Linked DNA regions of Homo sapiens: all the other regions are linked to region 1. Evidence: fine-mapped QTL for protein levels in blood plasma. A gene starts in region 1. Each other region holds a variant in brackets. All regions are shown on one strand. Distances are from middle to middle.

Region 1 (8,108 bases):
TAATGCATTGTTTCTCCTTTTTTCTAATATAATATTTTTGTATTAGATATTATTTTTTCAAATAAATTTGTAATAAATTACAAATAAATAAAGATTCTTGTCTGAAGGTCTGAATTATGACCTGTAACATATGGCTAAGATGAATTATGCAGAGGGTTGAACTCTTTGACCTCTACGGACTTTTTAGTTTTGAAATTCTGTTTCCATGGTAAAGATTTCCTTGTAGGCCATGTGTGCTTGAAGAGGATGCTGTTGGAAGTGTTTGACTAAAGCCAGAGAACATTATGTGACCTCCAGTTTTTCTACACACAAGGATGGCCCCAAGCTTCGTGATAATGGGGGGTTATGGTGTAGTTACCAGTGCCTCTTACCTTTATGATTTAGTTGAATGATACAAATGGTACAAATGTCAGGCTCTTCTAGTACTTACCCTGTTTACTTTTTGTAGCCATAATATAGTCATTTGTTAACCACATATTTATTGAGTGCTGACTAATGAATAACACAAAAATAAAGTTTGTTTTTTTTTTTTTTTTGAGATGGAGTCTCGCTCTGTCACTTGGGCTGGAGTGCAGTGGCACAATCTTGGCTCACTGCAGCCTCTGCCTCCCAGGCTCAAGTGATTCCTTGCCTCAGCCTCCCAAGTAGCTGGGACTACAGGTGTGAGCCACCATGCCTGGCTAATTTTTGTATTTTTGGTAGAGATGGGTTTTCACCATGTTGGCCAGGCTGGTTTCAAACTCCTGACCTCGTGATCTGCCCACCTCGGCCTCCCAAAGTGCTGGGATTACAGGCATGAGCCACCGTGCCTGGCCTGAAAACAAAGTTCTTACCTTCATGGAGTTTACCTTTTGTTTGAAGGAGACAGATGATAAACAAAAGGACAAATAAATGTGGGTATAATTTCAAGTAAAGATATTTGCTATGAAGAAGTACTATAATGGCACAATCCACAGAAGTCTTTCACAAAATTGTCTTCTGGGTCTAAAAGTCACCCAGATCTTGATGCTACCTTCTTAAAATATCCACACCCTTTACTCATGTTTCAAGACCATAAAATGAAAAACACAATGTTTTTAACACGTTTCTTTAAATGTCCTTTTCCCCTTTTCTTAATCTTCTTTCTCCTTGCACTACCATGCCCCAAAGCTCCCAAAGCACCCTCCTTAAATGCCCAAAGAGTTCCTATTCCCCAGTGTAAATGAGGCTTCTGCTATTGTTTGGTTTGTATGTCTTAGTGAGGATTTAGAAAGTACAATCTATCTTAATTGTTGATGAGTGATAGAAGGTGGTAGGCTGCTTGGGCTTTTTGTATTTATCTACTTAGTTTCTGACTTATTCTTATTCTGTTAGTTTCAGTGACATGAGCTTGTGGTAAACCAAAGCCACCTGTAGCAGATATTATTGGTGCCCCGCCAGTATGCTATATTCCCTTACTATTTCAGCGTATACCAATGTGACTCTTAATTCTTCTATCTCTGGCTTTCTGTGGCCACTGAGGCAACTCTGTCTACTCTTGGAGCATTGCAGACAAGCCAGGGTCTTAATAATCCCTGAAAGCTGCCCCCAATCATTGACTGACGGTAGTTGGTGTTTAAACAACCCAGTTATCTTGTCCTCTTGGTGGAATCACTCAGTCTAAGGTACATGTTCCATATTGTTTCCCAGAGATTTCTAGGAGGATTAAGTTCTGGGTGCCTCTAGCGGTAATGTGCTAGATAAGGCATCTTTTTGGTCTTCTCTTCCCTATTTCACTTTCTTAGTCTCTTACTGGTGTTTCCTGCGATAACCTCCTAAATAAAATACTTGCTCTTGAATACCTGTCTCCAGATCTGCTTCTGGGAGAACCCATACTAAGGTGGTTATTAATTCAGTCAAGTTGCAGATCAGACAGTAACCTCCCACTGATTGTCTTGGCACTTGAAGGTCCTGAATCCAATGCAAGTTCTATGTCTTCATGCTCTTTGTGAATGTATCTGTTGCTCAAGGTCGTGGGTGACCTTGAGCCCAGCAGTCAGCATTATCCACAGCTGAAGTAATACCTATGTGCTCATATTAGGCTATCTGACAACAGTGCAATAATCATTAGACACCACTGTTTAGACCCTGAGTATGTTCATGACATTTGCCTTTTGACTGCTAAGTAGAAGATGTAATGATTATAGGCTGATGCTTTCTCAGGAGGAGGAAAGTTATTGAGCTTTACAGTTTCAAATGCTTCTGATTTTCTTCCACGTTTAGTCTGGCTGCTGACACATGTGTTGAAATCTCTCATGTCGATCAGCTTGAGAATAGCTGGGACTGCTGAGCTAAGTCTGTGCTCATAAAAGCAACAAAGAATTGTATTACAGGAAATGACCCCAAATTGACAGAAGATTAGGCTAGGAAGCCTGAACAGGTGTTTTAATCTCTATGCACAAAATCAGTCTGTACATATATTGCTCACATTCCTGCTGTTTTAACTATATTTTTTTTTTCAATTTCACTTTGTTATTCACAATTTGATAATATTTTATGTGGCCATGGTGTCTGTGTGATGAACTATAATCCAATGTGACATTCTCTGAGAGTCAAGCTTCCAAGGACATCAGATTTTCACACCAGGACACTTTGTAGGACACCTTGCTACTCTCCATGGGATTCAAATATTAGAAATAATGAGAGATCTAAGACTTGATGTAATTGCCTGCATGTAATGAATCAGGCCAAATAAAAAAGTGAGAGACAGAGAAAGGAAATGGTGCTAAGGAAAATGGGGACCTATCTTAGTGTTTGTCTGAGAGAAAACTGCTCTTTGTTTTTCCCGATGTAATGGCAAGAGTCTGCAGCCAGGAATCTAGTCCTTGCTTAGGAGCTGCATGACCTTGTGAAAATTACGTAGGTGTTCTGCAATTTGTAATTGCATTTATTGTAAAATTAATTTTACTTTTCATACGTCACTAGACAGAGCATTTTGAGGTTAGGAATTGGGTCTGAATCAATGATTTCTCCAGCACCCACATGGCATTTGGCACAGAATACATCAATAATGATTTTGGATTAAACAGGGGAACAAGCACAAGGAACCATGGTGGTCAGAAACGGGTTGATCTGCACCAGAGAAAGGGAGACTAGGGGAGAAAGGTCACTCTAGATTTCGTTCAATTATTGAAAATACGGTGTATTTACTATGTGCTGGGCACTTTTCTAGGTGCTAGAAAGACTACAGTGACCAAAACAAAAATCCACATCTGCAGGGATCTTGCATTCTAGTGAGAAAGTAAGATGGTAAAAAAGATAAATACGTAAATTTTATACAATGCTTCGTAACGACAAATGCTAAGGAGAAAAACAGCACAGAAAAGACAGAAAGGAAAAGAGAAGGGGCGCATGTGGTGCAATTTTGTTAGGATGCCAGGGAGGGCTGAGCGTAGTCGTAAATGACCACATTATTTGATGGATCAAGCCAGGGACTGCAAGTCTGTGTTTCTGAGAGACACATAAAGAAAAGAAGGCTTAAGGAATCCAGAAAGATCCAGAGTGGGGAAATGAAACGAAAAGAAATCCAGCCAGTGGGAAGTCGTGAAGGGATAGTTAAACGCGTTTTGGGAGGAAAGAAAAAAGCAAAAGTGCGGTACAGCCTTTCGTTACACGTGAAAAGAATCATGTTTCTTTTTCTAGTTAGAAAAAGCCAAAGATTGTGCGATTTATGCCCCAAACCCCCTTGTAAGGGGATTCTCACCTCAACTTGTCTTCTGTGGTCAGTGTTTCCCGCCCCTGAATCAGGGTTACTGTCACTATGGCTTTCAATTGGCCCGGCGTAGGCGCATGCTCTGCGCGTATTGGCCTCCGCTCCTGTCCCCAGACAAGCGGCCATCTTGGGTCCCGCCCCTACCGTGGGGTCTTCTGGGAATTGCAGTCCCCGCTCTGCTCTGTCCGGTCACAGGACTTTTTGCCCTCTGTTCCCGGGTCCCTCAGGCGGCCACCCAGTGGGCACACTCCCAGGCGGCGCTCCGGCCCCGCGCTCCCTCCCTCTGCCTTTCATTCCCAGCTGTCAACATCCTGGAAGGTAGGGGCGGGGAGGCAAGCCCAAGTGGAATACTGTTTCTGGGGCGCGGGTCTGGGTTTCCACGCGCGTCAGGTCATCACCCCGGAGCCCAGTGGGGCCGGCGCCGCTCACGGGGCGGTGGGCTTCTGTCCCGAGTACTCTTCCGCCCCACGAGGGTCTCAGGGTGGGGACTCGGGCCCCCCAATTCCCAAGCACCGACCCTAGCCCTAACCCGTTCCTCCTCCACCGTGTTTATACATTGGGGAAACTGAGGCACGGGGCCACGCCAGCGGGTCCGGGGACGCCACAGCTCTTGGCTCTGGGGGTGTAGTCGGCACCCGCCGTTTTGGGATGGTTCGTCAGTTTCATAGACAAGTAGCGAAAATCCGTCCCAACAGGTCTGTGTTAAACACGCAGCTCTGGATTCCCCTAAGGGGTTGCTGAACACGTGCCCAGGACAGGAGCAAACCGGAGTATAGAGAAGGCAGCATTTTGGGAGATAATTTTACATTACTACTTCAAAAACAGGCAAAGAGGCATCGAATTTATTGTTGTGGGAGAACTCATCGGTACTTGGTCGGACTTTCTTACACTTATTTTATGGTTGTTGTTTTTATTTTTAGCGTCAAAGGGGGGAATTTTAAAGGTATATCCAAGTTGGTGGTGGTGGGGGGTAAGGAGGCAGGTTAGTGGAACTTGAGATGCATCTGCAGATTTCTCTGTAGGCTCACATTCTGCCCTCGCTGTGTTACCTTGGAACAGCCACTCACAGCGCTTATCTGGGAAACAAGGAGCTCAATGCTCCCAGGTCAAGTGGCCAAAGGATGTTGCCTGAAGCCGAAATCTAAATTGAGGTTATGCTTGTGAAAGTTTACCACTTGCAGATTTACTGCTATTATTATTCTGGTCTCTCAGAAATGTGCTGGGACCAATAGAAAATACTCACAGTGGTTGTTTTAGTAAGGTTCTGACCTGGGCCGGGCCCAGACTACCAAGGGTGGTCCCTACTCGCACCTGATGTTAAGCCGGATCTACCTGAACTCTCCCTCCTTGGCTTCAGCCTGCGGCCTGAGGCCTTGGCCGCGGAGGCTTCTGGGAGTTGCAGTCCCGCCTCTTGTTTCTCGTCGGGCAGGTACTCCACCTCGTGGCGTGCCATTTTGCACGGCGAGATGTCTCCTGGGAGACGAAGTCTCGCTTCTAGCCGTTCTGTAGAGCAGCCGCTTGACTCGGAACTACAACTCCCATGTGGACCTGCGTTCATGGCTGCCGGCCTGTGTCCACCTGCTGCAACCTGGACTAGAAATATTTAGTAAAGAAAGAAGTCTAGGGTTTGTGTGTGTGTGTGTGTGTGTGTGTGTGTGTGTGTGTGTGTGTGTGTGTGTGTGTGTTGTTATTGATTGCATATGCTGTTCTAAGTGTTAGATATGGGATTGTTGTATACGGTGTTCCAAGTATTAACGTACATGCTTCCAAAACCACTAACACTTGACCATTTAGAACCTGTTCACATGATCTCTTTTTAATACTACATTTCCCATTTGTATATGAGAAAAAACTTGAGAAGATAGCCCATGATTACACAGCTAGCAATATAATATATATTCAATAAAATATATGTGTTATAATTTAATCCTCTTAAAAGCTATATGAGAGTGAGAACCATTTTTATATCAACTTTACAGATTAGAAAACTAAGGCTAGGAAAGTTAAGTAACTTGTTCAAGTTAAAACACTGGTGAATAAAAGGACTGAGACTGTAAGCCCTTCTGCTTAACAGTCTCTGCTTAGAGAAAGACCTTACCTTACAGAGCTGAGGAGGAGTCCAACCTTTCTGGCTACAGAATTTGGAATCTTTTAATTATACCATGCTGCCTCTGTACTTAGATACTAAACATTTGAGCTGCAAAAACCTTTGAGATCATTTAATTCTAATGCAAAGATCTTGGAACACTTCTTGGCCTATAATAAAGATTCCATATATATATGTATATAGTTTTAGAATACCTTTATTTTAGAGATTAGGAAACTGGCCCAGGTGGTAAAGCAGTTTGCCCAAGGTCACACAGTTGGTTTGTGTCAGAGATTAGACTAGAACCAAGCATCTTATTTTCAAGTCCAGGGTTATTTTCATTCCACCAGCAGTCAGCTAGCAGGAACACCAGATGTGTAGCTCTTTAGATAATGGTTTCTCCTCTAATTTGCTCTTTCAAGGCCACAGACCAGGACCAATTGTTATAAATTATCTTATTTATTATTGGTAAGGTTGTAATACTTCATGAATTCAACAAATGTTTTTTGAGCTTCTTTATATGGTCATCTCTCTTAAGGTGCAAGGACCACATAGATGATAAGGACTTAATGCATTCAGACTGGAAGGACCTTATAAATAATCTAATCTAACTCTTATTTTATAAATGAGGAGAGTGTGTTACGAAGTAGTCTGCAATCTTCATCTCATGCCCTCATGTCAAAAGTATCCCGTTTCTGCAAGAAGGCAGGTTTCTGGAGTCCTCACAGTAGTGTGGATAACCTTTTTAGGCTTATGCTTTTCTATTTGGTATCCTTGTCTTGGCCTTTTTCCTGCAGCCTTTGATAGAATGCTTTAGGAAATGTTTTTGTGTCCCCATCTTTATTTGTGTGTTTATGCAACTTCAACATGCTCTGTTTCTATTTTGGAAGTTAGTCTGGTTTTGGCTCCCATTACTCTTTTCTCTTTTGTTCTTTCAGACACTTGAGAACAAATTCTGACACTATGTTTGCATTCACATGTTAAAATCTGACCCTCTAATATGAACTCTCAGAAATCTATCAAGTTGTGACTTTCATTTTGGAAGACATATTGGCCCTTTCAATTATGTATTCACAGATAATAAGGCAGGTAACTCTGGTCTCTTCTGAAAGATGATTTCCATATAGTTAGGTAATAAAGTAACAGTTTTATGAATTATTGGCTAAACATTCCTGAAACAGTCTATTTGAGAAGTTCTCCTCATCACCCCCATGCCCCCACCCCCACGCTCTCCCAACTGATAGTCTGATCATTCAGCTTCCACCACAGTGCCTGACCACCAGTAGACACTGAAAAAGTACTTGTGGCATTGCATTCATAAGCACCCTGTTCCCACATCTCTTCATTGAATCTGTTTACTCTTTTAATGCAGAAGTGCAGCTTTGAAATATAAGATGTAGGAGGTTACTTTGCTTTCAACATGTACATTGCAGAGAAAAATCTCAGCCTTTGAGATCATTCTCCAAGGGGTTGTCTCTTTGGGAATGTCCATATCTGTGACTTCTCAGATGAGAAAGTGATCTATATAGTAAGACATAGCAGAGAAGCAGTAGAGGGGTTGTCTGGGGACCCATGATTTAATTCCCAGCTGTGCCTTTTAGACAGGTTACTTAGCCCTTGGTTTTCTCTCTTAAAATAGGGATAATAAGCATTTCTACCTCACAGTGATGATGAAGAAGAAAGTGTGTTTAAAGCTTTGAGCATGTTGTCAGGCTCTTAACAGCTTGCAGTCAATAGATAAATATAATAGCTCTTATTTTTGTTATTGTAAGCCTGATATATGAAAATTCACATTTCCTCAAGATTTAAAACTTTAAGCAGGTATTTATATTATAAAAGGATTTGTTTGCCACTTGTTTTCTTAGAGTAGCACACTTGGTCATCACATTTAAAATATGAAGTTCCTCACAACTCTTGATAACCTGTCTTGTCAGCACAGTGACACTCTCTTGTGTGGGCAGAGAGACAGTGAAGCTTTTGGCTCGGTACTGCCTGCTGAGAGGCCCCTGATCTATGGTTCCACCTATATATTAAATCCTTGATTTAAAAGCAGCCTGTTTCTGTCAGTGGGGCCTTCTGTCCATCTCTAGAAAGGATTGGTCCTATCCCAGGAGGCTCAGGGTTAGAGTGAGGCAGTTGTCATCCAGCTGGTGAGTAATCCTGGGGCAATGACCGTGGGGATGTGGCAGTGCTTCTTTCTAAAGCTGACAACTTCAATAGCCATGAGGTTACGATAAGGAGGTGAGTTACTGAAAAGAAGTGATGCAGGGAACAGGGAAGGAGCAACAGGAA
Region 2 (8,109 bases), 420 kb after region 1:
TTCTCTCAAGCAGTGCTGATTCTCTCTGTGTGTCAGCATCGTGACAAGTACATACCTGCATTTTTGCACTTATCACACATTATTGTAATTATTTTTCACATGTTTATTTTTTCTGCCAGAATCAGTTTCTTGTAGCCTGGTGACATTTAAATTCGATAGGATCCGGTTTATTGTATATTTTTTTAGCTCTTCCTACATGTATTATTTTTGAGTTTCTGCTGAGACTCAGGAACTTAAAGCTTTCAAAGTCCTGAATGCAGATAACAATCAACAGTCAAGCCAGTATCCTATTGCCTGTGAAAATATCCTCAGGAATAAAGGGGAAGTAAAAATATTATCAGATGAAGGAAAACTAAGAGAATTTGTGTTTTTTGTTTGTTTGTTTGTTTGTTTTTGTTTTTGTTTTTGAGACGGAGTCTTGCTCTGTCGCCCAGGCTGGAGTGCGGTGGCGCGATCTCGACTCACTGCAAGCTCTGCCTCCCGGGTTCAAGCGATTCTCCTGCCTCAGCCTCCTGAGTCGCTGGGACTACAGGCGCCCACCACCACGCCCGGCTAATTTTTTGTATTTTAGTAGAGACGGGTTTCACCGTGTTGCCCAGGTTCGTCGCGAACTCCTGAGCTCAGGCAATCCGCCTGCCTCGGCTTCCCAAAGTGCTGGGATTACAGGCGTGAGCCACCACGCCCAGCCGGAAAACTAAAAGAATTTGCATAATTGCATCACTGCACTCTCCAGCCTGGATGACACGGTGAGACTCTGCCTCGAAAGAAAAGAAAAGAGTTATCTAATTGGAAAGAAGACAATTAAAAATGGATCTCTTCAACATCAGAAAGGAAGAAAAAAACATAGCAAAAACATTTGTACTCTTGAGAGCTCTAATTGTGTTTGAAGTTTGAAGCAAAAATTGCAATATTCTGATGTGGATGTAAATGCATGTAAAGGAAGTATTTAAAATAATTATATTATAAATGGGGAAGATAAAGGGATGCAAAGTGCGGAGATAGGGTTTCTATATGTTACTCAAACTGGTAAAATGATGACACCAGTAAACTGTTTAGTTATAAATATATAAAGTAATACCTAGAGAAACCTTTAAAAAATTATATACAGAAATGCACTGAAAGACACTTTAGATAAATCAAAACAGAATTCCAAAAAGTGTTCAAATAGCTTATAAGAAGTCTGGGCAAAGAAAACAGAAAACCACAAAGAGAACAAACAGAAAATAAACAAAAAATAAAATGGCAGTGTAAATTCTAAAATATCAATAATTACATTAAAGTTAAATGGTCTAAATATACCACTTATAATACAGGGAAGAGATTAGCAGAATTGTTTAAAAAATATGACCCAACTATATTCTGTCTATGAGAAGCTCACTTTCAATATAACAATAGACGAAAGTAAAATAATGGGAAAAGATGTATCATGCAAACTTTAATCAAAGGAAAACAAGAGTAGCTGGTTCTTTGAAAAGGTTAATAAAACTGACAGTCTAGCAAGACTGACAAAGAAAAGAGAAAAGACACAAATTACCAATATTGTAACTAGGCAACTTAACTTCCAAATGCATTTTAAAACATTTTTTTCTCTTCTCTTGGTTTTCAAGATACAACCTTGAAAAACTGCAGAAGCCTTTTCCTCAGCCTAGAAATAGGCTCCACGTCCCTCCCTTTTTCACCATATATACTCCCTTCACATTTGTCTAAGTATATACTAGTATCTAATTACTGTGCCTTCTTAGAAGTTCCAGGGGCTAATCTTGAGACAGGCGGAATAAGCTTGGAGACCCAGCTGCAAAATTCCAGAGATTACTTCAAAGTGGCTAGTTAAAAACCTGGCCATGGCTGCTCAGGAACTTAAAGCATTCAAAGTCCTGAATGAAATAATAATCAACAATCAAAGCAGTGTCCTACAGCCCGTGAAAATATCCTCAGGAATAAAGGGGAAGTAAAGATATTCCCAGATGTCTTGACTCACCATCCAGGTAGACTGAGACCCAAGATAGCTACCAGAACAAGACACACAGATATTATACTTAGTACAATTCTTGCATGCCTTCCTTATCAAGTTTTCCCTTTTTAAACCCCTGCCTTCCCCCAAAATCAAAGTGATTGCTTTGGGCGGGAATCTGACCATTTCCCCTTTACTGGTTTTAGTAAAATGACTTTCTTTCTACTAGACCTCACTCTTGTTAACTGGACTCTGTAAACAGTGGGCATCTGGACCTGCATTTGGTTACAATATCAGGAATGAAAGAGGAGATATCACTATTGACCCTGTAGACATCAAAAGGATAATAAAGAAATGCCATGAACAACTCTACACACATAAATTTGATAACTTAGATGAAATGGGCCACTTCCTCAAAAACACAAATTCCTACCATTCACCTATCATGAAATAGATAATATTTAAAAGCCCATAACTATTAAAAATTGAATTAATCATTTAAAAACTCCCTGAAAATAAATATTTAGGCCCAGATGGCCTCACTGGAGAATTTTACCAAACATTTAAAGAATAATTAATAGGAGTTTTATACAGTCTCTTCCAGAAAATAGGAGAGAACACTTCGCAATTCATTTTAGGAAGCTGGTATTACTCAGATATGAAAAACAGAAAAAACAGTGCAAAAAAGAGAAATATATACCAATAACTGTCATAAATAGAGACACAACAATCCTGAACAAAATATTAACAAACAGGATTCAGGCTAAAAGAATAATATACCACGACGAAATGGAGTCTAGTCCAGCAGTGCAAGGCTGGTTCCACCACTCCTATTCAACATAGTGCAGGAAGTTCTAATCAATGCAATAAGGCAAGAAAGGGAAATGAAAGGCATACAGATGGAAAGAAAGAAAACTGTTAATATTTGCTGATGTCATGATTTTCTACACAGAAAACACTAAGTGATCTACAAAGACGAAAAAACACAAAACCAACTCTTAAAACTAGTAAGTGGCTGGGTGTAGTGACTGATGACTGTCATCCCAACACGATGGGAGGCCGAGGCAGGTGGATTGCTGGAGCCTAGTTCAAGACCAGCCTGGGAAATATGGAGAGACCTCATCTCTCCTCAACAACAACAAATGAACCAGGCCTGGTGGTGTATGCCTGTCATCCCAGCTACTTAGGAGGCTGAGGCAGGAGGATGGCTGGAGCTCAGGAGGTTGAGGCTATAGAAGGTTGTGTTTGTGCCAATACCTGTGTGCCACTGCACTCCAACCTGGGTGGCAGAGTGAGACCCTATCTCAAGCAAACAAATGAAAAACTAATAATTGAGTTCATTAAGGTGGCAGGATATGAGATAGACATTTAAATTATCAATTGTATTTCTTTGTACTAGCAATGAATCTGTGGACACAAATTTTAAAAATATAGTACAATTTGCCTTAGCTCAAAAATATGAAATACTTATGTGAATCCAATAAAACATTTATAAAACTTGTTTGTTGAAAACTATATAATGTTGATGAAATAAATTTTAAAAATGTAAATAAATGGAGAAAAATGTTGTGTTCATGATTTGAAAGTCACAGCGTAGTAAAGATACCGATACTTCCCAAATTGATATACAGGTTTAAAGCAGTTCCTATCAAAAATCTCAGTATGATTTTTTCATATATAGATGACATTATTCTAAAATTTATACAGAAACAAAGGAACTAGAGTAGCTAAAACAATTTTGAAAAAGAAATAATAAAGTGGGAGCAATCAGTCTACCCAGTTTCAAGAAGTATTGCATAGTTACTATGTGGCTATCCATGGAGTGACAGAAACATAGATCAACGGAACAGAATAAAGAACCCTTCTTTTAGAAGGAGAAGGCATTAGAGAAAAATCTTTGGAATCTCTGGCTAGGGAAAGAGTTCTTAGATTTCACATAAACACAATCCATAACAGGAAACAAATGATATATTGGTGATATATTGGACTATATCAGAATTAAAACTTTTGCTTTTGCACCGTGAAAGAGTTTTTTTTTTTTTTTTTCTTTTCTTTTCTTTTTTGAGACAGTGTCTCACTCAGTTCCCCAAGCTGGAGGGCAGTGGCACGATCTCGGCTCACTGCAACTTCTGCCTCCCAGGTTCAAGCAATTCTCCTGCCTGAGGCTCTGGAATAGCTGGGACTACAGGTGCATGCCACTGTGGCTGGCTAAGTTTTGTATTTTTTTTTTCTTTTTAGTTGAGACTGGCTTTTGCCGTGTTGGCCAGGTCTCAAACTCCTGACCTCAAAAGATCCACCCTCCTCGGCCTCCCAAATGCTGGTATTACAGGTGTGAGCCACCACGCCCGGCCTAAGACCCTTTTAAGAGAATGAAAAGAATAACTACAGGCTGGAAGAAAATATTTGCAAACTACATATCTGACAAAGGACTAGTATTTAGAATATATAAAGAATTTTCAAACTCAACAGTAAAAAAATCCAAGCAACTCAATTAGAAAATACATGGCCAGACATTTTACTGAAGAGGTTAT[A/G]CAGATGGCAAATAAGCACATGAAAAGATGTTCAACATTATTAACCATCAGGGAAATGCAAATCAAAACCACAATGAGTTATCACTATGAACATATTGAAATAACTAAAATAAAAGATAATGATAACAACAAATTCTGGTGAGGATGCAGAGAAATTGTGTTACTGGTGAGAATGTAAAATGTTATAGCCACTCTAGAAAATGGTTTGGCAGTTTCTTACAAAATTAAACATGCACTTATCATACTCCTGGGCATTTATCCCAAGTAAACAAAAGCTTATGTTCACACCAAAGCCCATACATGAATTTTCATAGAGCTTTATCTGTAATAGCCCCAAACTGGACACAACTCAGATGTCCTTTATTGGGTGAATGGTTAAGCAAACTGTGGTCCATCCATACCATCGAATACTACTCAGCAATGAATTATTAATACATGAAACTACTTGACTGAATCTTCAGGGAATAGATTAAAGGGGAAAAAAACACAAAACCAAAAGATTACACACTGTACGACTCCACTTGTATAACATTTTTCAAATGAAAAAATTATATAAATGGAGTACAGATTTGTGGTTAAAAGTTAAGAAGGGGTGGAGTGGGAGGGAAGTGGGTGTGGCTATTAAAGAGCAACAAGAGGATCCCTGGGATGGACACATTCTGTGTTTTGAATGTGTCATTGTCAATATCTTGGTTGTGTTACTGTGTAATAGCTTTCCAAGATGTTACCATTGAAGGGAATTGGATAAAGGGCATATGGACCTTCTCTGTATTTTTTCTTACAACCTTCATGTGAGTCTACAATTATTTCAAATAAAAAATGTTAGTTAAAAAAGGGGAGGGGAATATGAACAAAAATCATAGAGGAGAAGGTCACAGAATACAATTGTAGAAGCTGCCTTAAAAGGCCAGGGACTGATTTAAAAGGGGAGAGAAACGGTAAAATCTAAACTGAGATTCTAGAACGTGTCAGGAATTCATGGCACTGTAAATGTATGAAAGTGGGAATGAAGGAATATTAAAAGAACATTGAAAGAATGACAAATAACTGCTAATCAGTCCCCAGAGTTCTTGCCCAATCCGCATAGCCTGGGAACTGCCTCTCCCAACTGCCTCCCTCCCTACTTCCCCAGGAGGAAGACTGGAGGGGTTGGACCAACTACAGGGCTCGTGATTGGAGTCACCATGCATAGCTGAGGATGGGTATAATGATGAAAATCGGGGCTTAAGTGAAAGACAATATGATGGGGCTTCTGCTCTTTCCCATACTTAAATCTCAGAACAATGGCACCCAGGCTTATACCCCTAAGGCAGGAGATTGAAAGATATCTTTCTGGGGAATTTGACCAGCCCAAGGAAAGAGACCTATAAATATCAACAACCAGGGCTTTTCTAAGCCAATCTTTCTAGAACTGTGTTGTCTAATATGGTAGCCACTAGCAACATATATGGCTACTGAGCATTCAGACTAATCAGGTTAGTCTGATTTGAGATGGGCCTTAAATGTAAAGTACACTCTGAATTTTGAATGCTTAGCGTAAAATCTCTTATTAACTTTTATTAACATGTTGAAATAATATTTTTGATATATTGGGTTAAGTAAAAGCTATTATTAAAATAGTTTTTAAAATGAATAAGAGACTGAATTTCTTCCAGATTGAAAACAGGAAAAACGACTTTTATGGTGCCTCTGTGCTTTTTTTTTTTTTTATGAATTGATTTAAAGCAGCACATTATCAACACAAAGGGAGTGATTAGCCAGGAAGGAGAAAAAATAGTTGTGACCACGTATGTCTGACATACCTGATGTATCTCTTTCTTGCTGGTTTCTATTGAAATTGGTTTTTTTAAAGGCACAATCTGCGGAATGACAGTAGGCAGGTTATCTGGGCATCCCTATGTATTTCATCCTCCCAAGTTTATGTTAAATTTGTTACTTTGGGTGAGAGTGACACAGACATTGGGCATGGCAAGGAGGTTCTTTATGTATCAGTAGGAGTGCCTCCAATATGTTTTGGGTTGTCCAGTGAGTCATTCTGTCTGGATCAGAATCCAAGATCTGCAACTTAGTAACTGTGATTTAGGTCAAGTAATTTAACTCTCTTTGCCTCTGTTTCCTCATTGGTAAAACAGGAATCAAAACAATAGAACTCTTTTTTTTTCTTTTTATCTAATTGTATTCTTATACAATTAGATAAAAAGTACAAAATAATAGTACTTTTAAGGTCATTGTGAAGATTGCATACTTTAATGTGGGGAAAAAAATGTTTAGATGGTGCCCAGCACATAATGAGCATTATATAAATGCTGCCTATTATTATTATTATTACTTGGGGCTAAGGGCTCTAGTATTATCTCTGATCCTTAGGCCAGCTTGTAAGGTAAGTAGTGTTGTTATCTAAGATTCTGAGGCTTAGAGAAGAAGCTGCTCAACTGGGCTACAAAGTCACTTCAAAAACCTGAGATTTTTTTCCATTATACAATCATGTCTCATAAATCTTAGCGCCCTATTGCTGAAAGAAGCCTTTTAGATCATCCTAGGAGGTTTCTGAACTATTCTGCAGAGTGAGTGGTTAAGGGTTGGGCTCTGGGGTCCAAAAAAATCGTGTTTGAATCCTAACCCATCACTCAGAGCAGCTGGGTGGTCTTGGACAAACTCTTCAACTGCTTTTCTCTTATGTGGTGTCTCCCTCATAGGTTGTTAGGATGATTAAATTAGATAATATATGAAAAGTTATTGGCATACTAAGTGTTCCATAATTATTAATTTTTATGATTATGGTTTTATTGTAAATATGAACTAAGTCTGAAGCTGGTGGCAGAGGTACAACCCGAACTCTGGCAGGTCTTTTTATTCAGTGCTCTCTCTTCTCCATTTTGCTATCTAATTGGTTAGTTTTTATTCATCCTTTTAGAGTCTACATTTCTAAAGTCAGGGCTGTTAGTGAAGATTTTAGAAGAACATTTTCCAAGAGTTTTTTTGAACTGCCAAGTCCAGAGATTTAGGATGTACCTTGGTGCTGAAGTAATTGGCTCTCTTAGTCTTGCATTATAAGAAGTTCTCTTTCAGAGTATAAGGTTGAGAACCATGAGAAGAACTCTCACATTTTAGTAATTGCTTTATGGAATAACTTACCTCCTAAAAACATATGTTTTTCAGCTTCAACTCGTTCCTTTCCTTTCTGTGCCATTTTGAGAATCTCCTCATTATATATAATCACAATCTTATGTTCTGAGTTTCTCCTTTTAACTATTTCCTCAAGTGCCATCACTTAATAATATTTTCTTTTCTGTTTATCAACTAGTTGGGGAAGTGGTATGGTTGTTAGTACTGATGAGTTTCTTAGGAAAATACAGAAATAATTTAATCTTAAAGATTTTCTATCTGTCAGAGAATCTGTCATAAAACATGCCTGAAGCAAGCTGCACAGTATTTACTGCCCTTATATCACACCTAGACACAGTTCACGATTGGAGATTAATTCAGAAATTCTCATTAATATGTTAAGCTAAGGACAAGGATGAGATGTTTTAATACTTCCATAAATGCAACATTTGTTTTGTGTGTGTGTGTGTGAATTGGATTGCTTTGCTGTGAACAAGGCAGATCTCTACTTTGCTCTAATAT
Region 3 (8,109 bases), 1.3 Mb after region 1:
TGGGAAACCATTCAAGAAAACTCTTTAGAGAAACACATTTGCTTTTGTCCCATGAGACACACACGATGAACTAATAGATCATCCTTGGCTCTAATTTCTAACCGTGTTCACAGCCAAGCTCATTTATACCAGGTGAATGATGATCTGGCTCATCACAAGAAATAGCTAGTATGATGAAAACTTTTACAGAGTTTCAGGAAAAGCAGTCCTAAATAAATAAATAAATATATATAGGATTTCCTATAGAAAAAATATATAAATATATATTTTTATGTCTATATTATTTATATAATTATATATTTTATATCTATATAAAATATATAGATTTTTTATATCTTCATATCTATATATAATATAGATATATATAGATATATTTTATATTTTTATATATTTTATATATTTTATATTTTTATTTTTTTATTTTTTAATATATATAAAATATAAAATATTTTTCTATAGTAAATCCTATACATATATACATATATGTATATAAATCCTATACATACGTACATATATTTTTAATATATAATATAAAATATATGAATATATAAAAATATGAAATATTTTTCTATAGTAAATCCTATACATATATACACATATATACGTATATATTTTAATATATAATACAAAATATATTTATATATATATATTTATATATTTATATAAATATATTTATATATATATAAATATATGTATATATTTATATAAATATATGTATATATTTATATAAATATATATAAAACTAAATATGTAAATATATTATAAATATAAATACATAAAAATATTTTAAAAATTTTCTATAGTAAATCCTAGACATATATGTACACATATATATGTGTGTGTGTGTGTGTGTGTGTATATATGTGTGTGTGTGTGTGTGTGTGTGTGTGTATATATATATATATATATATATATATATATATATATATATATTTTGGACTACTTTCTCATACCCAGAGCCCTTTGGAGTCCAAGGGAGATCCAATCACAGACTTCTGGGTGATATAGCAAAGGGAATAACTGTTTGAGAAGTAAGGGCACAAGAAGGAAAAATCGAGTTGGAGAAAAGACAGTATTTGGAATCTTAATCCTTCTTTGTACATGTGGTGTTTCTTAACTATCCTTCCAAAGGGGGTGCCGTTGAATTTTATTTGGACAGTTTACTCCTACTGAGAGCTTCTCAGTTATCTTAAGGATGTGGGAAATTCTTTTTCTTCTTTCCTTGTTTTTGGAAAGAATGAGTCTGTCTGAGTTTTCCCAAGAAAGTTAGCTGCTACAGTTTCAGGGTGAGCAGCCATAAAGTGTGAACCGCTATTGATAGTGCTTTTTTCTTTTTGCCGTTATAATATGCTTAAAATGGAGTATTCCTTGACATGTGCAGACCGCAAAGGAAGTGATACTTGGTTCAGAGTTTTTTTTCTTCCTCTCATTCCTTCCCCCATCCTTTCTCTGCTCTCCTCTTCCTCTTTTTTTTCTCTCTCTCTGTTTGTGAGAGGGGAGTATAGTACTGAGGGGACCAGGCTCTATAAATGTATCCTAAGTGTCAAGTAGGTTTCATTTCCAGTACCCAGTTCTGGAAGGCCAGTCATGACTGAGTGGACACCTGCGCTGTGACGGATTCTAAGGTTCAGCCTAGGCTCAGTGTGAAAGTGAGAGGTGATCAATTAATAATGTCTCTTAAGGGCATGTGCCACATATATTTGCTCACCCTGCTTTAAGACAGACAGGACTCATCCCAATTCTCACAGATTTTTAATTTTCTGTTTAAGTCTTTAGTGAAATTGAGTACTCACAGCTAAGCGGAGCTGGACTTGTGAAGTTGTACTCATTGCCCTGAGATGGGAAATGCCAAATGGTAAAGATAATCAGCACAGATAAAATTACCTTTTAGCAAATTCTAAATTATGTACATAGATGTTCAAGATTCAATGTAAAATTGCTTTACTTACTTACACTTTATTTTTTGGAATAGGGATAACTGGTCCTTAGACCACGTAGTTTGTTACTTTCTATACAAGTGTAATGGTTTATTGAAAGCAACACCTGATAATACTCTAAGGTTTTACAAATAACCCCCTATGTCTGGAGTTTTGGCAAATACTCTGCCTTACCCTGCCAGTGCAGATAAAATGGAATTCTGTGGCATTTGGAAGGCGGAGCATTCTGTGTTTGTAATGGAGATCATTTGGGCTCTGCAGGGCACATTTGAAGTCACTGATGCCAGTTCAATCCCCAGATGGGCAAATTAACTTTAGTCCTTTCCATGTCCAGAAGCTGCATGCCCCACTCAACTGTCAAGAGTTAGAGCAGGCAACTCTGCAGTGCCTCTGGACACAAGCCACCACAGAGAAGATGTCCCTGAAGAGTTTCCTAAACAAAATGTAACTCACTGTCCTACGATGGGAACTCTCCCACTTTTCCAATACCTATCTGAGATTCCATTTCTGATTCAGGTTCATTACTGGATCATAGACCTCAACACACCTGGCTTAGTAATGGTGAAGCCCAATACTGCTGACCCTGCTGCTACTCTTAAGATTAGGGACCACATTTGAAGTTGCTGTTGTGAAGAGGATTATGACATGTAGCCCCTGGAATCTGCCCCTGCCCCGCCCAGTTGTGCTGGGTATTAAATAAGACAATAATCTTTGTTTTGTCCCTCAGTGTATGCCCATCATCTAGAAGAAAACTCAAACTTAATAGGAGCTTGGTAAGTATTTGAATAAATGAAGGCACATTTTCATAAGTGTGTGTTACTGGTATTAGCCAAGGCTGTGTGCCTTGGTTCCATTCTCTGGGACTCACCCTTCTCATATGTGCTAAGGTTATTCTATTTCACATGCCTTTTACTCTGCACTCTGGGGCTTTCTCTTGCTGGTGTAGAGTGTAGGCCTAAAGTGTCAGGAATTATTGACTTTAGGAACAATGTTTAGCCAATACCAGTGGGAATTTGAGGATAAATTCCCCAGCTTCCTATGTCGTAAGTGCGAAAACTCAGAGGGTAGCATGTTCCACGCTGTCTTCCAGAGCCCCCCCCAGTGGATTTGAGCCCCAATTGCTTGAAGCACTAATATTCTTATAAATGTTTCTTGTAGTAGATTTCTTTTTTCCCCTGTCTTACTTCCACTTCTCCCCTAATGGTGCTTCCTGGGCCCATCTCTCAAATAATCCATTTGTACTCAGATTCCTGTCTCATGATCAGTTCTGGAGAAATTCAGTCTAAGGCATTAATGATAATAAAGCAGTAAAGAGAAAGAATATGAGGTTCAGCATATCTCCTGCTACTACTGGGAAAACAGTCTGGTGCAGCATGCCCAATTCTCAGTGACTGAGTTTCACCTTGGAATATTAGGGATAGTGTGCTACTTAGTAAGAGGCAAGAGTATTATTCACAGGAAAGTTAAGTAACATTGATCTTCTAGGAATTCGAATACAATTTAGACTTGGTTATAATTCGTAAATATATGTTCTTTGCCCTATCACTTCAGTACGTAGAGGCTCTTGTTTTTGGTCTATGCAGCAACTCTTCCTCCCTCATGACTGGATTAATTATAGTTACTCAATCCCCTTTGGCCACAGGGGTAATACAGGAATGGAGACTTGACCAAATCAGGTCCCTGTCTTTGCTAATATAGGGATTTTCTGGTACTAATGGGGCAATCCTCTCATTCTTCTCTGATTACTAGGTTGGGAGCTTCCTGAGGCCACCTTCCACAGCCAGGTTGTCATCTTTATTCTGAGAGAATGAAGCCAACACTGGAGAGGGAAAGGACTATACATTAGTCCGCCTTATCTAAAGGGAATACATTCTAAGACCCCAG[C/T]GGATGCCTAAAACTGCAGATGGTACCAAATTCTGTTTGTACTGTTTTTTCCTATATGTACATAGTTACGATGAAGTTTAATTTATAAATTAGACACAGTAAGAGATCAATTACTACTAATAAAATAGTACAACTATACCAATATATTGTAGTACAAAGTTAATAATTGTGGTCTTTTTCTTGCTCTCAGAATATTGTACTCTAGTCACTTATTTTCAGGCCATAGTTGATTGTAGGCAACTTGAAACCATAGAAAGTAAAACTGCCAATAGGAAGGTAGGACTGTACTGGTTCTGCCTTAACATTCCTGAGGATGTGTTTATGTGAACCAATAAATATACCCCTTCTTTTTGTTCCAAAAGAGTCCTGACCTGCTGGGAGTGGTGGCACATACCTCTAATCCTAGCACTTTGGGAGACTGAGGTGGGCCGACTGCTTGAGCTCAGGAGTTTGAGGCCAGCCTGGGCAACGTAGCCAAACCCCATGTCTACAAAAAATACAAATATTAGCTGGGCATGGTGGCACATGCCTCTAGTCCCAGCTACTTGGAAGACTGAGGTGGGAGGATCGCTTGAGCCAGGGAGGTGGGGGTTGCAGTGAGCTGAGATAGTGGCATTGTGCTCCAGCCTGGGCAACAGAATGAAAAAAAAAATCAAAAAAAGAATCCTGGCTAATGCACGATGCATAGGACTTCATCTTTTCCTTGCTAGAATCTCTAATTTACAAATAGAAAACTTTGGATTTAGTAATTATGCCAGTAATGTGTAGAAGCCACGGAGATGTCTCAGAATCCCAGTTCCAAGACAGTAGGGACTGGGGCTGATGTGCTGGTCTAGGCCTGCTCCCTTTTTTTATCTATTGGTACCTAATAAACATGATGCTGTTTGATGACCTAATTACATTGTGTTAACACATTTGTAGTTAGCCACAAGCACTTAACCTAGCTCAGAACTTCATCCCTTTCTGCAAGTACGGCATATACCGGAAATTGAGCACAGAAATCTTAAAGCAGATTAAAGAGGGCAAAAATTCATTGTGAAATATTCCCAAAGTAAAGTTAGTTATTACACTTGATCTTAGCTGGAAGGCCAAAAAGTGATCACAGTTAGTTATTGATAATATACTTCACTTTAGGTGAATTGGTTTGTGCTAGCTTTGCAGCCTTTGAAAACCCTGTGGGACTGGCATCCCATTTCCTCTGGATACTGCTTATAAAACCACAAATTAATTTTTTTTTTCTTCTGTGATTTCACTTGACACTGGAATCTCAAAAGTTTCTTGGGGGATTTTTTGTTGCCCCAAAAGCTACAATTAAAAGACAGATTTTCATACCTTCTTTTTCCACTTAAACAACCATCTTCAGGGATGTTATTTTGTGTTTATTTAAATATTCAAATAGGATTCATAAGCCCCATCTTCCTCACTCTCATCTTCACAAGCTAAGGCAGTGCTTGAGAAAAGAGACCATACATCACTATTTATTCAGCTAATGTAACGCGAAGAGCTCTGTTTGAATAGTCTATTTATCTCTTCATGTTGTCACTAGAGAGAGGTAAGACTAGCCAGTGCTTAGTGGTCAAAGAATACCTGTTCAGAAAGAAGTGAAGTCAACTGATTTTTAATACCAGATCAATAATTTTTTTTTTCTTTTTGCTGACCCTGGCAGCAAAAAGGAGTGGCAGTAGTGTAAACTGATACCTTGAATCCTGTGGGATATTTTTGTTCTCTATCATAAAATACAATTTTAAATTAACCACATCAGACTTTTTCTTGAATTCCAGAAAATGATTAATATCGATTCCAGAGCTGAAAGGCTTTTGTGTGCATTTCAGGTTAATTTGGCATATTTGCCTCATTTCACATTAAATGTTTTATGTGTGTTTAACTTCTCTATTTGACCATTTAGCATTCGAGAGACTCCATAAGAACTGTTAATTATCAAGGGCATCTCTCTGCGTTAATGTGCGGGCACCGTGGTATGTTCTTTACTCTGAGGCTGAGGAAATGTGGGCTGGATGTCAGGTGCTGTGATGTTATCTATAGGTTCGGTAATGTGGCCAGGCACTGCCACTGTGGGAATCTGTGTGTAATGAACAAATTTTTCACGTCCCCACTGATGGCCTACATTTTTGCAGCAGGAAATCAGAGAGCACAGTTCAAGGGCAGCAATAGAATTTGGATATTGAATTTGTCACAGAAGCAATGGCCCATTTTCAGAAGGCCCTTTGCCTTATGAAACCAGCTAATCAGCTAGAAACATAGGGATTACTCTGAAACTTAGACAAGACAGGACAGCGTTCAGTTCTTCCTCATACAGGGGCATTCCAAGTGTGGAAATTTTAATCCTTTGAGTTAAAATTTAAAAAAAATGTGTCTGGATTCAGGAATAATCTAAAGCATAGTATTCTTCTAAACTCCATTTCCATGAGATGCTCTAAGAAGGTTTTTGTAATAAATCCATTTTACTTTGCATAATGAAATATTTTTCAAACTTATTTCTCCATGGACCCAGTGTTTTTTTTGTTGGTGGTGGGTTTTTTGTGGTTGTTGTTTATAATAGTGAATAACCACTAAAATCTTCAGATGCTTTGTCTATAGATACTTTTGGGTAACATAACTACAAAGGTTGTCAAGAGAAACTAATGTTATTTTCACATTGGCAGAATTTCATGTTCATAGTTAGGATTATAATTAATTTTAGGACACATTGTAAATTATGAAAACAGTAGTTTAGTTCATTTGGGATGCTCTAAGGTAATACCACAAACTGGGTGGCTTATAAACGACCAACATTTTTTTCTCACATTCTTGAGGCTGGGAAGTTCAAGATCAAGACACTGGCAGCTTTGTTGTCTGGTGAATGCCCACTTTCTGGTTCATAGATGCTATCTTCTCCCTGTGTCCTCACATGGTGGAAGGGATGAGGCAGTGGTGGGAAACGGCCCCTTGCCTCCTTGTGGGACAAGCTATCCTTGGCCTGGCCATGGCTTCTCCAGGCTGAACTTGAGTCACACTTGGGATGACTTACACAGCTTTGTGATCCAGGAGCTCCACTAGTTTGAAGCTCTTCTCTGCTATCATCCCATCCATCTTATATAGACAAACCCCATAAAATTCCAAAGTCCGGTTAGAAACTGTAGAATGAGGGCTAATTATAACAACCTATAGCTAAAGCCAGAGGCATTATACCTTCAGGAACTGGGCAAAACTGGGGACTCTTGAAGAACATAGATACATAGTTTTGAAGTATGAAGAATATAGATGCACACTTTTGTGTGTTATTTTTAAGAGTTCAAGGAATCCTTGTTGTCCATTCAGCCACCTTCCTCTGGCCTGAAGTGAGTATCTGCCTTACAGTTGGCAGAGATGAGGAATTAACATTCATGCCAATGCCCAAATTTGTGATGATCATGAAGAGCTGGAAAGGTGAGTTAATTTAGTGAGTTAGCTTCAGTTTCTTTAGATAGTGTCAAACTTAATGTGTAAGAGGGAGAGGGGGAAAAGAGCAATGTAAGCTTAAGTGGTGTTTTAGAATATCTTTTCACTGGGGAAAGAAAATTGACAAAAGATTCAAATTTGTTAAATTAGGAAGAAAAGTCAATATGGTGTATTTGCCATCTGTCAGACACATTAAGTCTTCTCTGTCGAACAGTGTTGTCAGCTGACCTTATTATGCTGGGAAGGACTGGAGAAGAGCTACTGTTTCATCTCCCAGATTTCCTCAGTCTCCCATTAAGAAAGTGCTGAATTTAATTCTCATTTCTGTTGCTTTTTATGTGGCAGGATGGTGACGCTCAGTTTCACAGTTTCTTTCTTTTCGAAAACATGTACTCTTGTCACACGGGCTTACTCATTTATGGGCAGGGTGGGAGTATAGCGACCAAACCCCTTCTTATTTATCCAGTAAAGCACCACAGCCCCACCATATCTTAGTGTAGAGTTTCAATGTGCCCCATTGATAGGAATGTTCCATGACAGCGTACACGTTCTAAATGGGCTTAACCAATAATTTCTTACCCCTGCCTGAGATGTTTCTATTTAAAAAAGATTTTGGGATCCATAGGAAAAAAAATGTCCCCAAGGGATTCTCTAAAATTGTTTATTCTCATAGCTGGTGTTTTGCAAAATGCTTTCCTCTCCCAAGTCTGTCAAGTAATTTTTATAAGGTCTCCACTCTAGACATTCCCAACTAAGTATCTTGTTTTCCCTGAATCTTGGAGATGGAAACACATGCAAAATATGTGATAAGAAAGCAATGAGGGCAATGCTGAGTTATAAAAAATATCTC
Region 4 (8,109 bases), 4.4 Mb after region 1:
TTTGAGGGCACAGCACATCCTTACAGTACCTCCCTGGGTAGAGTCTTATACAGCTGAGCAGATACCAGTTGCTACTGGCCTCCCCTGGCAGTAGTATAACAGCACAAAAATTCAATTGACCATTAAACTGGTAGGTCAATAAAAGTTGAATGTAGGAATAAATGATGACATTAGCTTAGGCTGAGTGCAGTGGCTCACCCCTGTAATCCCAACATTTTGGGAGGTCAAGGGGAGAGGATCACTTGAACCCAGGAGTTTGAGACCAACCTGGGCAACATAGTGAAACCCCATGTCTACAAAAACTAAAAAAATTAGCTGGGTATGGTGGTGCACGCCTGTAGTCCCAGCTACTTGGGAAGCTGAGATGGAAGGAATGCTTGAGCCCAGGAGGTCCAGGCTGTAGTGAGCCACAACTGTGCCACTGACCTCCAGCCTGGATGACAAAATGAGAAAAAAAAAAAAAGTTGCACCAGATGCAGTGGCTCATGCCTATAATCCCAGCACTCTGGGAGGCTAAGGCAGGAGGATTGTTTGAGCCCAGGAGTTCAAGACCAGCCTAGGCAACGTAGTAAGACCCCCATTTCTACAAAAAATAAATAAGTAAATAAAAATTAGCCAGGCATGGTGGTGCACCTGTAGTCCCAGCTACTCAGGAGGCTGAGATGGGAGGATCACTTGAGCCCAGGAGGTCAAGGCTGCAGTGAGCCACGATTGCACCACTGCACTCCAGCTTGGGAGACAGAGCTAGACTCTGTCTTTAAAAAAAAAAAAAAAAACTGCCACCTGGTAGAACATGGTTAATTAAGTGGTAGTAATAAGAATTGTTAGAACTCAAAAGAATAAACTAGCTCCACAGGGCTGGGTTGACCTGGGAAAGCTTCTCAGAAGAAAAACTTGGTCTGAGACTTGAATAATGAATGGTATTTTAAAACATGGAGAAGGATGAGGGAGGGACTATTCTGGACCTGAGTTCAAAGATACACAAAGCTTTTTAAATGTCAACCAATTGGTCCTCTTATGTTGACAGCCCTTGATACATACCTTCTGTGCCTTTTCCTTTCTTTTGTTCTTTAATTCATTCAACAAATATTTATTGAGTGCCTATTATGAGTCAACCTTTTTGTGGCCCAGGGAATATGTTCATGAGGCAGCCTAGTTTTATGGTAAAAACATCAGCTGGGAATCAGAAGACTTTAGTCTTCTCTTAAGTCCTGTTTTTAGAATACAAGTATAAAAAAATTCTTTAAGTTTATTGTTGCTGTCAGTATCTCTAGATGGAGACTTTGGCAGCTCAGACAGAGGATGTAGCATACTGTCACCTTTCCTGGGAAGAAAGGACTTCTGCTGTTTGAATGAAATAGTTTTTTTCGTTACCTTCTTTCCTCTCTCTTTATTCTTTCTTGTGGGAGCACTTTATCCTTTGAGCTCCAAAAACAAAGCTGGAAACCCATGAAACAATATTTGCCACGACCCTGGGCAAAGATACAAATGAAAACAAGCAGAATTCTTTATCAGCCAGACAGTTCACCTTTGTTCATATTCCAAGCGCGTAGGATGGCAGCAGGGGGTGCAGGGGGAGGTTTACCTGTGGTTATCCTGCTGAAAGAGGTATGCTCATTCTCACGAAAAAGAATTGATCTTGAGACTGAAAATGGCTTATGGCAGGGTGGGTGGCTGAGAACAAAAGCAATTGTTAGCATTTTTGAGATATTCATACATCTTGAGCAGCAGCTCAACTTCTATCAGTTTGATCCAGGTCTTTTTTCCTTTGAATTCAGTTCTATCAGCATCTATAGAGTGCTTGCTGTATGCAATACTAGTCATTTCAAGAGGAGGAATTTAGCTTCCTTTCCCATTATCTCCACCAGCCCCCTCACTCCAGAAGCACCTCAAATAAGCTTACCAGCTAAGCATGTACACTGTAGTCGCTGTGCAAACATAGCTTTGAGATGGCCACCCTGCCACCTCCCACATGACTCCCTGAAGTCCTTTTCTTCTTTGTCCTCTCCTGTCACATAAAATTCAGAATTTTCAGGAGAATTTCAGAATTTTCAGTAGAGTTTCAGAATTTTCAAGATAGAAGGGAACTGAGGGTCACCCAGTTCTGTTTGGTAACAAATGTGTTCCACTTCTTCCCCTAGCCAGAGTCCCAGGACAGAGGGTTAGCTCATTATGTCTTTGGCTCCTCTTTTATCCCTAACCTCTCGGGTATAAAATGTAAGTGATTAATGTTCCACAAGACTTGGACTGAAAAACTTTAATCCAGTACATTCTGTTTGATCAAAACAGGGTCCAGGAAAGTTAAATGACTTGTCCATAGCTGCCACAGTCTGTGGGTAAACAGGGACCAAAACCCAAGGCCACTTGATCCCCCATGCGTGGCCTTCCTATAAAGCCACTTGCCCATGGTGTGGACATGATTGCCCTGTGGGTACGGGGCATGCTGGGGCCAATGACACGCTATCTTTGGGGAAGGGTGTAGCTTTGTGGTTAAGACCATCAACGTTCTGGCAGACTAAGTAAGTTCTGGCATGGCTATTTAGTAGCTGTGTGATCTTGAGCAAGTTACTTATCTTCTCTGAGCCTCCATGCCCTCATTTATACAACAGGGCAGTACCCTCTTCAGCAGGTTGTGAGGATTCAGTAAGGTAATATATGTCACATGCTTGTCACAGGTCTGGCATAAGGCAAATGGCACCTAACATTATTTTCTAGCTTTTCAGCACTCAGGTGTGAACTTCCCAAGTCATAATGGTTCTTTCTGTTCCAGCTGAAGTTAACTCAAACCTGTCTTTATTACTCCATTTGTTGAAAGAGAATCTGATATGGAACTTTTTGCTTGGATGATGTGCCACACATGTAGTCTACTGTTAGAAATTGTTTAAAAATCTGAGTTTCAGAGCTGTCTTTCCAACTGGTTGGTTGGTTCCTGGGTTTTGAAGAGATTCGTTCCTCCTCCAGACTTATCTCCTCGCTCTGTTTGGGACCATAATAAACCTAGCTACTGTTTATGAAATTATTACTATGTGGTAGCCCCTTAACCAGGTTTCTCTCTAATCTTCACCTCCACCCTTTGAAGTAGGTGCTATTTGGTCCTGATTGCAGATGAGGAAACTGAAGTTCTGAGAGACTGAGTAACTTGCTTGATGGTTGATATTTTGGTGGTTCTCCCTCGTGGAAGGTGGAAGAGCACACTGTGCTCTGTAGTTTTCTGGATGTGAGATTATGTCTAGGGTGACTCTAGCACTTGGGGTTGACACCTGACAAGGACTTGAGTGAGCATCCAACCCCCTGATTGATCAGCAGGGGAAGCTGGTGAGCAAAAACGTCACAGGACTGGACCCAAGTCAGCACTGCTTCTCATTCAGTGTTCTTTCAGTCATATCATATAGGCTCAAATCCTTGACCCTTGCATCATAGGCTCTGGCCTCAGGACTCCCTGGTTTGTGACTGGCCTGTGAATTAACGTTCCGCTTCAGAATTGGAACTTGAGGTTCTAGAAGCAAGGTGCTTGCATTTGAACTCCAGCTCTGCTGCTTACTAGCTGTGTGACTTTGGGCAAGTTGCTTGAACTCTCTGTGCCTCAGTTTCTCCTACTATAGAAGTACTCATTTCATAGGATTGTTGTAAGGATTACTTGAGATACTTCATTAAAGTCAAAGCACAGTGCCTGGCAGAGAGCAAACACCTCTTCGGCTCTCAGCATCATTTACTGAGCTCTCATCACTTGCCAGGCATCTTTTGGCAATGGGGATGTAGCCTTGTACAAGCGATTCATGATTCTTTTGGAGCGTACAATCTAGTAGGGGAAACAGATGCTAGAGAATAATGAAGATTATGATTTATTAAGTAATTCTAGTGCTATTTGTTATTTATGGGGCACTATTTAGAAGTTGCTGCAAGGTATCTTTGTTTTTAGTTCTAATTCTTATAAATGGACAACATTAATGTAAGTAAGTATTTTGGGTAAGAAGTTTGGCCAGGGTTGCACAGAACCCTCAGCTTTGAGAAGCCTGTGGTTTAGCATCTCATGCCAGCAACCATCTAGATGTGTATTTTTGTTTTGTTTTTTAGAGACAGAGTCTTGCTCTGTCACTCAGGCTGGAGTGTAGTGGTACAATCATAGCTCACTGTAACCTCCAACTCCTGGGCTCAAGCCATCCTCTTGCCTCAGCTTCTAAAGTAGTTAGGACTATAGGAATGCACCATCATGCCCTCCTAAATTTTTACATTTTGTGTACAGACAGGATCTCACTATGTTGGTCAGCCTGGTCTTGAGTTTCTGGCCTCAAGTGATCCTCTTGCCTCAGCTTCCCAAAGTACTGGGATTATAGACATCAGCCACCAAGCCCAGTCAGTCATCTGTGTTATATCCAGAACAGAATTAGGTATGGCCCTACCACTTAGATGCAAGCAGCCCACCCTTGAAGGGCAGAAGGGAAGCTGTGACTGGGCAGAATCCACAAGGCAGCAAGACTTGGTCCACTGAAGGAACAGATAGCTCTCATAGTCATAACAGGCCTGTAGGAAGAAGACAGTGTAGGAACCAAATGCTGTTGTAAAGAT[A/G]ACACAGGCACTATGTAACCGAGTACCTATTTTTAAGTGACAGTGGTATATTTTAGGCCAGTTCTATCCCATTTGTAGTCTGTCTCCATTTTCCCTCAGTAATTCTTTTCTCATAGTTGATCTTTCCTCTGTTTCAACCTCTTGTTTGCTTTGCCATTTGATATTAAAAGAATCTATATGCATATGCATTTCTTGACAAATGAGTACATTGAGCTTAATTTTCTGATGAGCCTTCATAAAATATTACCATGCTGAACCAACCCAAAATGTGGGCTGCCTATACCAAACATGCTAATTTTAGACAGGGTGCTTTCATCAGTACATAAGATATGAATTTTTATTTGAAAGCTTTCCTGAAATTAAATAGCATAAAATCAAGATAATACTCCATATACACTTCAGTCTTTGCTGTTTAATAGAATCACAGAAGCATACACATTTATGTTTAAATCACCTTGTTATATGGTTCAAGAATCTATGTCTCAGAGAGATCACTTGACTTGCCCAAGACCACAGACTTAATGGTAGGGCCAGATTGTATACCATGTCTTCTTTTTTTTTTTTTTTTAATTTTTTTAGAGGTGGGGTCTCGCTCTGTTGCCCAAGCTGGAATGCAGTGGCACGATCATAGCTCACTGCAGCCTCAAACTCTTAGGCTCAAGCAATCACCCTGCCTCAGCCTCCTGAGTAGCTGTCACCATAGGCATATGCCACTGTGCCTGGCTAATTGTTATAATAATAATTGTTATTATTATTGTAGAGATGAGGTCTTACTTTGTGGCCCAGGCTAGTCTCAGACTCCTGGGCTCTAGTGATCCTCCCACCTTGGCCTCCCAAAGTGTTGGGATTATAGGTGTAAGCCACTGCACCTGGCCCATGTCTTCTAATTTAGGTCAGTTCACTCTTCACTCTGCTGCTTCTTTTATATATGTGCAACAGTCATATCCTTTTTTGAAATTATAAGATTAAATCAAAGAATTAATGTCTTTGGAAGCAAGGAGTGTTGGAAAAGTTCTCCAAATTCCACCTTTTTTCCTTAATTCATTTAAAAAAAAAGGGAGAAGGATGATTTATTTACCGGAAGGGTTAATAATAGCATGACGTGCTAACTGTATGCTTAGAAATCTGACATACATATTATCTTATTGGATTATTCATGTGTTTTTAACTCATTAAAACCTTGAAACTCTCATATCCCCATTTTATAGATGCTTAAACTGATGTTTGTCATCATTAAGTAAACTGTCCAAAGTCATATAGTTGGCAAGTGAAAACTTGGTATTTGAACCCAGGCTTCTCATTCTAAAGCAGAGGTGTCCAATCTTTTGGCTTCCGTGGGCCACAGTGGAAGAAGAATTGTCTTGGGCCACACATAAAATACACTAACACTAACAATAGCTGATGAGCTTAAAAAAAATCGCAAAAAAAAGTCTCATAACGTTTTACGAAAGTTTACAAATTTATGTTGGGCCACATTCAAAGCCATCCTGGGATGCATGCAGCCTGTGGGCCATGGGTTGGAAAAGCTTGTTCTAGAGCTTGTATTCTATGTTCTTCCAGAAAGAAGGACAGAGTGTTGAGTATTCCACAAAGAAAATTTTGCTGTAAAGGCAGAGTGGGAGGGAAATATCTTATTCTTTTTCAGTTTACTAGCTCTTCACTTTATAATTTAACCTTCCATATTAAAAGCTTCTCTAGGAAGTGAGAATTAATTTGGGGGAAGGAAGCCTCAATTATTCCTGCTTCCAGCTGGTACAGATGCTTGGCCACTTCAGGACAGGTAGGAGGGAGAATGTTGGCATCTGTCTACTGAGCTCAGAAACTGGAGAAGCATCTAAATTCAGGAATGATGCCAGGTGGGGTGGGGGTGTGGGAGGGAGGAAAAGGATGTGGTGTTTGGGGCCCATAACTCAGGAAACGTGATGGCACCTAATTTCAGAGTGGCATGAGGCAAGCATTTAGGAAAAGAATAGTGAACTATTGTTACAGGTTTTTTTTAAATGGGTGGGTTGTTTTTATAAAGTTTTATGAACAGGAAACTGAAGCAAAATGCTGATCCTTTTAGTTTTTGAGCTCTGCCAGCATCATTTTTATATTTATTTTTGAATTTTGATGACAGGCACTTCCTTTAACACTTCTGGGAGTAAAGTGTAACAAGATACCCCAAACTGCATTTCATAACAGCAGAATCCAAATGAAGAGTTGTAGTTTCAGATCTTTTCGATAACACGGTGAGACAGAACTGGATCCCTCCCCAGCCAGGGGAGAAAGAGAACTCTTTCAGTAACTGAGGCAGTCTGCAGAATTTTTTCCCTTTCAAAACATTCTAGAAAATTTGCCTAACATGTGGAAAACCTCTAACATGCATTAAAATGGGATAGACTGTGGCAAAGAAAATACAGATCAAATTCTCCTCCTCCCATGAATCATAAAAACCCAGCCTTCCCAGCTATTGTTTCTCCTGGAAGATGACTTCATCTTAAAGAAAGTGGTTCTATCTGTTGTGTGTTTTGGATGCACTAAACCAATGTTTCAGGCATCTGGCTGCCAACTTTGGAGATGTTAAAAGCCTGTTTTGTTCCTGCAGGGCACTCTTTCATTGCCTACCTTATAAAAGTTATGTCTTATTGCATTTTCCTGGCACCAGAGCAATCCTTGTACCTACCCATTGCATTTGGTTTTTCTGAGCCTGCAGGCAGCACTGGGTTATTAAAGTTCAAGGAGGAATCCACATGATGTTGGCTTTACAATTTTAATTCTCTCTTACCTTCTTTCCTCCCTACCTCCCACTCAATGACAGATGAGCTTTGTTCACCATGTATTGTCTCTAAACCAGAATGAGCTCTCAAAATTATCTCTTGTAAGGCTCTAGGAGGGGAGAACATGACTCCCCTTTGGTGGAGCAGCTAGCAGAGAAGTTTCCTTCTTCCTTTGGCTTCTTTGAATAAAAAGTTCTTGAGTCTATAATTTATCATCAGCCTTGAACTTCAGATAAGCACCATGTTTAATCTTGCAGAAACATCAGGCAAAATCTGCCCCCTCCCTTAAAAGTCAGCCCCTTGGGGCCCACCTCAAGAAAACAGAGTTTTGATACAAATGGCATTAGGTGTGAGCATGGCAAGTTAAGAGGAAAAAAACATTTTTGTAGAGTTTAACCTGGAATCAAAAACCTAGAGAAGGGAATGAAAGAAATAACCTTTAAAGGGAAGGAAAAGGGCAGATGAGCATGTTGCACAGTGTCTTTGAAAATAAGCTATTTGATGTCCCTTTGTCACTAGTTTCAGCCTTCCTGGCAAGTCCACCTTGTTCAGGAATTAGTGTGTAAACAGCTGGAAGGAACTGAAAGCTCTATCATATCTGAGAGGCCCCCACAGTCTAACACTGTAGGAGCCGTTTCTCAAAGTGGTTTGGACTCTTCAAGAAGCTAAACATTAAAATTAGGGGCCTATTTGAATTACCTTTCAAAATTTCAAACAGCCCACTATAGTATTCTGCATATTATTTTTTGGTCCCATCTCAGAAGTTTTAAATATGGTGTATTCC

Alleles and levels. Alleles are on the strand shown, and positions count from the first base shown. The strength of an association depends on the size of the effect and on how common the allele is.
With allele A in place of G in region 2, the plasma level of the protein whose gene starts at base 3,897 in region 1 is lower (strong association).
In carriers of allele T in region 3, the plasma level of the protein whose gene starts at base 3,897 in region 1 tends to be higher than with C alone (weak association).
In carriers of allele G in region 4, the plasma level of the protein whose gene starts at base 3,897 in region 1 tends to be higher than with A alone (weak association).

Evidence for each region. PIP is the chance, under the fine-mapping model, that this variant and not a neighbour inherited with it causes the effect. Protein levels are from antibody-based Olink assays in UK Biobank. Linkage for the fine-mapping came from a reference panel and not from the study's own genotypes, which makes the PIPs less certain.
Region 2: its variant is fine-mapped to the plasma level of the FHIT protein (UK Biobank, PIP above 0.99).
Region 3: its variant is fine-mapped to the plasma level of the FHIT protein (UK Biobank, PIP above 0.99).
Region 4: its variant is fine-mapped to the plasma level of the FHIT protein (UK Biobank, PIP above 0.99).

The regions. Positions count from the first base shown.
Region 1 is chr3:61,247,241-61,255,348 of GRCh38, reverse strand. It overlaps FHIT (fragile histidine triad diadenosine triphosphatase), which reads left to right and starts at 3,897. Exons shown (of 10, transcript NM_002012.4): 1 at 3,897-4,048. LOC124909387 (a long non-coding RNA gene) reads right to left here and starts at 3,757. Exons shown (of 2, transcript XR_007095939.1): 1 at 3,722-3,757. RefSeq lists enhancers at 3,800-4,094, 4,159-4,218, 4,349-4,478, 4,619-4,748, 5,029-5,308.
Region 2 is chr3:60,830,770-60,838,878 of GRCh38, reverse strand. All of the region lies in intron 3 of FHIT (fragile histidine triad diadenosine triphosphatase), which reads left to right. Among named protein-coding and RNA genes, the nearest start is that of MIR548BB, 220 kb to the right of the region's middle. The variant A/G (reference allele first, on the strand shown) is at 4,483.
Region 3 is chr3:59,979,323-59,987,431 of GRCh38, reverse strand. All of the region lies in intron 7 of FHIT (fragile histidine triad diadenosine triphosphatase), which reads left to right. It overlaps LOC105377112 (a long non-coding RNA gene), which reads right to left and starts at 2,529. Exons shown (of 3, transcript XR_940885.3): 1 at 2,485-2,529; 2 at 1,794-1,833. The variant C/T (reference allele first, on the strand shown) is at 3,822.
Region 4 is chr3:56,812,179-56,820,287 of GRCh38, reverse strand. It overlaps a transcript of ARHGEF3 not described here. Among named protein-coding and RNA genes, the nearest start is that of ARHGEF3, 14 kb to the right of the region's middle. The variant A/G (reference allele first, on the strand shown) is at 4,567.